Regions from separate parts of the Homo sapiens genome. Here region 1 is linked to region 2. The links come from fine-mapping of genetic effects on gene expression. Tissue or cell type: whole blood. Region 2 holds a variant in brackets; the other region holds the start of a gene. All regions are shown on one strand. Distances are from middle to middle.

Evidence for each region. PIP is the estimated chance that this variant, and not a neighbour inherited with it, causes the effect.
Region 1: it holds the start of IFFO2, and the variant in region 2 is fine-mapped to the expression of IFFO2 in whole blood (INTERVAL, PIP 0.95).

Annotation. Positions count from the first base shown.
Region 1 is chr1:18,955,509-18,958,008 of GRCh38, reverse strand. It overlaps IFFO2 (intermediate filament family orphan 2), which reads left to right and starts at 1,333. Exons shown (of 9, transcript NM_001136265.2): 1 at 1,333-2,341. The coding sequence starts at 1,677. RefSeq lists silencers at 1,151-1,320, 1,891-2,150, 2,391-2,500.
Region 2 is chr1:18,933,369-18,936,177 of GRCh38, reverse strand. The region is part of intron 1 of IFFO2 (intermediate filament family orphan 2); the gene reads left to right. Among named protein-coding and RNA genes, the nearest start is that of IFFO2, 22 kb to the left of the region's middle. RefSeq lists enhancers at 1-264, 265-810, 2,462-2,809. The variant A/G (reference allele first, on the strand shown) is at 1,264.

The DNA of each region.
Region 1 (2,500 bases), 22 kb before region 2:
AATAACAAGACAAAAATTAAACTGCTAGTAAAAAATGCAGTCGGAAGTATCTGAAACATGCCACATATCTGGTTAAGTGCATACAATGCAAGCCACAGGCGTTCAAAGGTGGGGGTTCAAGGTGGGGGTCACCTCCCCTCTGAGGTTTGCGGTGAGGACCAAATGCGGAAATGGACACGAGGCCCGAGGCCAGCATTGTGGAAGGCCGGTTAGAGCATGCACTTTGGACCATTGTGGCTACTTAACGTCTCAGTGACCTTCTCTGTAAAATGGGGATAATAAATAAGTATGGCGCCTGACATATACTAATGTTTGCAACACGGTTCAGGAGACACCAGAGACTGGAGAACTTGGCCTTTAACGTGGTAGGTGTGAAAACATTTGAATGAATGAATGAATGAATGAATGGGTCCTCGGGTTGCCTCGGTCTGCCCCAGGCGGCCCGCTAAGCCCCATGTCTGTGAAATGAATCCCCAGCTCTCGGGGTCAGCTTCATCTCAGCGTGTGGGTGTGGGTGGTGGGGAGGTGCTGAGCAGCTCAGCAGAGGCGAGGCCCAGGCCGAGTTTGTGGGTGTCATCCCGGGAGGGTCTTGCTCGGCCTCCCCAACCCCCATGCTGCTCGGCTCCTCAGTGGGCGGGGGAACCAGCGGGCTTAGCTGTGCCCGGGCCGATCTCGAGAGGACAAGGCCCGCAGCTAGCATTCGAGGAGCCCACCCCCGGGTCCGCAGCGTGGGGCACGGGCGCCCTCTTATCCCCGAAAGGTCGATCTGGGCCTCCCCAGGCTAGAGTGGGGGTGGGGTGCCGATGCACCTTCGGATACTGTGGTCCCCCAGCCCTTCCAGCCGCGGTCGCGCACATCCGAAGGAATTTGGGGCCAGGGGCATTGCGGGCAGAGAGGACAGAGAAACGGAGCCCTCTCGGCAGGCGACGTGGGAGAGGAGCGCCCTAAAAAGTGGAAAGCGAGCGTTGCCGAGGCTGCTGGCCCCTTTAAGAGGCCCGGCTGGCTCTGCGGCGGTTCCAGCTAACCCGGTCCCTGGTGCAGCTCTGCGGTCCGGGTCCCCCAGCAGAGAATCGGCACCCGGCGGGGAGGCAGGACCAGACGCAGGAGAGGGCGTGGCCCCGCCGGGGAGCTGGGCGGAGTCTATGCTGCGGAGAAAGCGGGAGAACCCGGAGGTGGGCGGAGCCGAGGGTCTGTGGGTGGGGCCCGGCGCTGCGGGCCTCGTGGGGCGGAGCCTCGGGCTCGGGGAACGCCGCAGAGGGAGGAGGGGTGGGCGGGGCCGCGGCGGGGGCGGGGCCAGTGTCTGCAGTGGGCGGGGCCCGCCGCAGAAGGGGCAGTGCCGGCCGAGAGTCCTCTGCGTGCGGCTGCCGCGGCCCCTCCACAGCGTCTCTGACAGCCCGGGCGGTGAGACCCGCGACCCTTCTGGCCCCGCGCAGATACCGCGGCCTCCACCGCGTCCCGAGGAGCGGCCGAGTGCCCTCTCTCGCCTCGGCGCCCGCATCCGGGGCCATCCGTCCTGCCGTCTCTGCGGAGGCCGCATCTGGCGCGCATCTGGAACCGCCCGGCCGGCCGCGCTGGAGCCCGCGCCCACCCTGGCCCGGCCGCGCCGGGAGCCCTGCCCGGAGCTGGAGCCGCACCTGGAGCCGCGGGCCCGGGGCCCTGAGCCGCGCAGCCGGCGCATGGTGAACTCGCTGCTGTTCGGGGAGATGGCCTTGGCCTTCGGCTGCCCGCCGGGCGGCGGCGGCGGGGGCTGCCCTGGCGGGGGCGGCGGCGGCGGCGGGGCAGGGCCGGGTCCGTCGCCGGTGACGGCGGCGCTGCGGGACGACCTGGGCTCCAACATCCACCTCTTGAAGGGGCTCAACGTGCGCTTCCGCTGCTTCCTGGCTAAGGTGCACGAGCTGGAGCGGCGCAACCGGCTGCTGGAGAAGCAGCTGGAGCAGCAGCAGAGCGAGCGCGAGCGGCGGCTGCGCTACAAGACCTTCTCCCGCGAGCAGGCCGTGCAGACCGGGCCCGAGTTGCTGCGGCCCCCGGCGCCCGGCGGCGGGCACGGCCTCAGCAGTGGCGCGGCGGCCGGCGCCAACGCCAATGCCGTGGCCCTGGGCGGCCTGCCCCCCGGCGGCGGCTCGCACCCGCAGCACTACGGCCGCCTGCCCGGGACCATCTGGAGCTACACGCAGGTGCGGCGCACGGGCGGCGGCGGCGTGGAGACCGTGCAGGGCCCCGGCGTGTCGTGGGTGCACCCCGACGGCGTGGGCGTGCAGATCGACACCATCACGCCGGAGATCCGCGCGCTCTACAACGTGCTGGCCAAGGTGAAGCGCGAGCGCGACGAGTATAAGCGGAGGTGAGTGGCCGCCCCTCCCCCGCCGCCCTGGGACGGGGCGCCCAGGTCCAGGCTGCCGCGGAATGCGTATGCGGGACGGGGGCCGGGCGGGCAGCTGGTACTGGCAGGTGGGCTGGAAGCTGTGTTTGCAGAGCGTCTTACGTACGCCAGGAAGGCCCA
Region 2 (2,809 bases):
AGGGCTGCATTGGCCTAGATTGGATCTCCTAGAGAAGGCCCTGGAGATGACACTTACTGGGCCTTTTTAATCCAGTGAATATTTATGGGGCCTCCTATGTGCCAGGCTCTGTGCTGGGCACTGGAGTTGCAGCTGTGACCCATAGATGGGCCTGATCTTGAAAGAGATGAGGGCCGGGCGCAGTGGCTCACACCTGTAATGCCAGCACTTTGGGAGTCTGAGGCGAGAGGATCGCTTCAGCCCAGGAGTTTGAGACCAATCTGGGCAACATAGTGAGACCTTGTCTCTACAAAAAAAAAAAAAAAAAAAAAAATAGAAAAATTAGCCAGGTGTGGTGGCATGCACCTATAATCCCAGCTACTTGGGAGGCTAAGGCAGGAGGATCCCTTGAGCCTAGGAGGTCGAGAGAGCTGTTGTTGCACCCCTGTGCTCCAGCCTGGGCACACAGCGAGATCTTATCTCAAAAAAAAAAAAAAAGACAGAAGGAGAGAGAGAAAAGAAAGATGAGTTAAGCAGAGGAGACCAGCAGGGGATCAGTAACCTCAATACCAAGTGGCCCAGAGCCTTTGTAGTACAGAATAGTGGCACTTGACCCTGACCAAGGAGTCGGGTCAGCCTCCTGGAGGGGGTTATAAGCTGGGTCCTGAAGTCACATTAGGTAAGGGAGAGAGAGAGGAAAAGGACAAAGGGGAAGGGGTGTAGAACCTGTTGGGCAGAGAATGCAGCCCATGCCTTGGAGGTGTGATGGAGCTTGGCACAGGGGGGCTGGAGGTGTTGGGGGGATGCTATTCAGCCTTACTCTACCCTAGCACGTGGCCTTGTTCTCCAGGGCTTATCACCCACCAGGTGAGACCTCTGTCTACCCTTTTGGAGAAGAAGTGTCTGGCCCATTTCTCAGATGAGCCTGATCTCCCAACCCTTGCTCCTTGGGGAAGGTAGAGGGCCACTGGTGAGGAAGAACAGTATTTATAGCGGAGTCTTCCTGCACCCAACGGAGGCAATCTTTTGACTAATGAGGAAACTAAGGCACAAAACATTGTTGCTGCAGGAACTGGAGTAAGGGCCCAGGACCCTGCTTTTCCTTGGCTCCCTGGGCAACTGGGAGCCTGTGGTAGAGAATGCCAGAGAGCGTTCTCTCTAACACGTCACACATGGCTCTTTAGAGGGGCACAAAAGCCTTTTCTACATCTGCACACTTGATCCAGAAACCCAATCTGGGTATCCCAGAGGGATACCTGGACACATATGCAAATGTGAGGGTAC[A/G]AAGGTGTTCACAGTCTTGTTTAGATTGCAAGGACTCTGCGCTGACAGTGGAGGACCCATCAAACCAGTGGCCCTGCAGCCACCTGCTGTGTCACCTGCTCGGGAGGATGCTGCCGTATATTGTTAGGTGGAAAAAATGCATTTGAAAACCACATATGGTCGCATCCCGTTGTCGTTAAAAACCAATCTCATAAGAAGAGAAAATCTCATAAGAAAAAGTTGGGAAGGATATAGAGCCGATGTTAACCGTAATTCTCTCAGGGAGGGGGATTCATTTGGGTGGGTTTTACATTGGTTTTATCTGGCTTACCTGTTTTTTTCTTTTTCTATTTCTTGTGTAATCATTGTAAACACTCATGCAATTTAAAGCAAGGGGAAAACGAGCAGGTATTTTTGTCTTTTAAAAATTTAAGTGGTTTTGATGTTTTGAGCAGGTATACATGACATCATTCAAAATTAAAAAGATACAGAAGGAGGGGAAATTCTGACACACACTACAACATGGATGAACCTTGAGGATATTATGCTAAATGAAATCAGCCAGGCTGGGCGCGGTGGCTCACACCTGTCATCTCAATACTTTGGGAGGCCAAGGTGGGAGAATTGCTTGAGCCCGGGAGTTCGAGACCTGCTGGACAGCATGGTGAAACCCCGTCTCTACAAAAAATAATTTTTAAAAATTAACTGGGCATGGTGGCTCATGCCTATAGTCCCAGCTGCTCCAGAGGCTGAGGCAGGGGGATTGCTTGAGCCCAGGAGGTGGAGGTGCAGTGAGTTGTGTGATTGTACCACTGCACTCCAGCCTGGGCAACAGAGTGAGACGCTGTCTCAAAAAAAAAAAAAAAAAAAAAAAAAAAGAAATAAGAGAAATAAGCTATTCACAGAAGGACAGATACTATCTGATTCTATTTATACAAAGTACCCAGAAGTCGAATCCACAGAGACAGAAAGTAGAAGGGTGGTTGCCAGGGGCTGCGGGGAGAGGGGTACGGGGTACTACTGCTTAACAGGCACAGTTGCAGTTTTGCAAGATGAAAGAGTTCTGGAGATGGATGGAGGTGATGGTTGCACAGCAGTGTGAATGCACTTAATGCCACTTTAAAAATGGTTAAGATGGTAAATTCTATGTTATATGGTTTATTTATTTATTTATTTTTGAGACAGGGTCTTGCTCTGTCACCCAGGCTGGAGTGCAGTGGCGCGATCTTGGCTCACTGCAGCCTTGAGGTCCTGGGCTCAAGCAATCCTCCCACCTCAGCCTCCTGAGTATCTGGGACTATAAGCGGTGCCACCACACCTGGCTAAATTTTTTGTAGAGATGGGGTTTCGCCATGTTGCCCAGGCTGGTCTGGAACTCCTGGGCTCAAGTGATCCACCTGCCCAAAGTGCTGGGATTACAGGCGTGAGCCAACGTGCCTGGCCTGTTATGTGTATTAAGAAAAGATACAGAGGGGACAGAGTGACAGTTCTACCCCATAATCCCCAGCCACCCACGTCGCTGCTGAAGGGAACCAATGTTTTCAGTGTGATGGTGGATGCTTGGTTT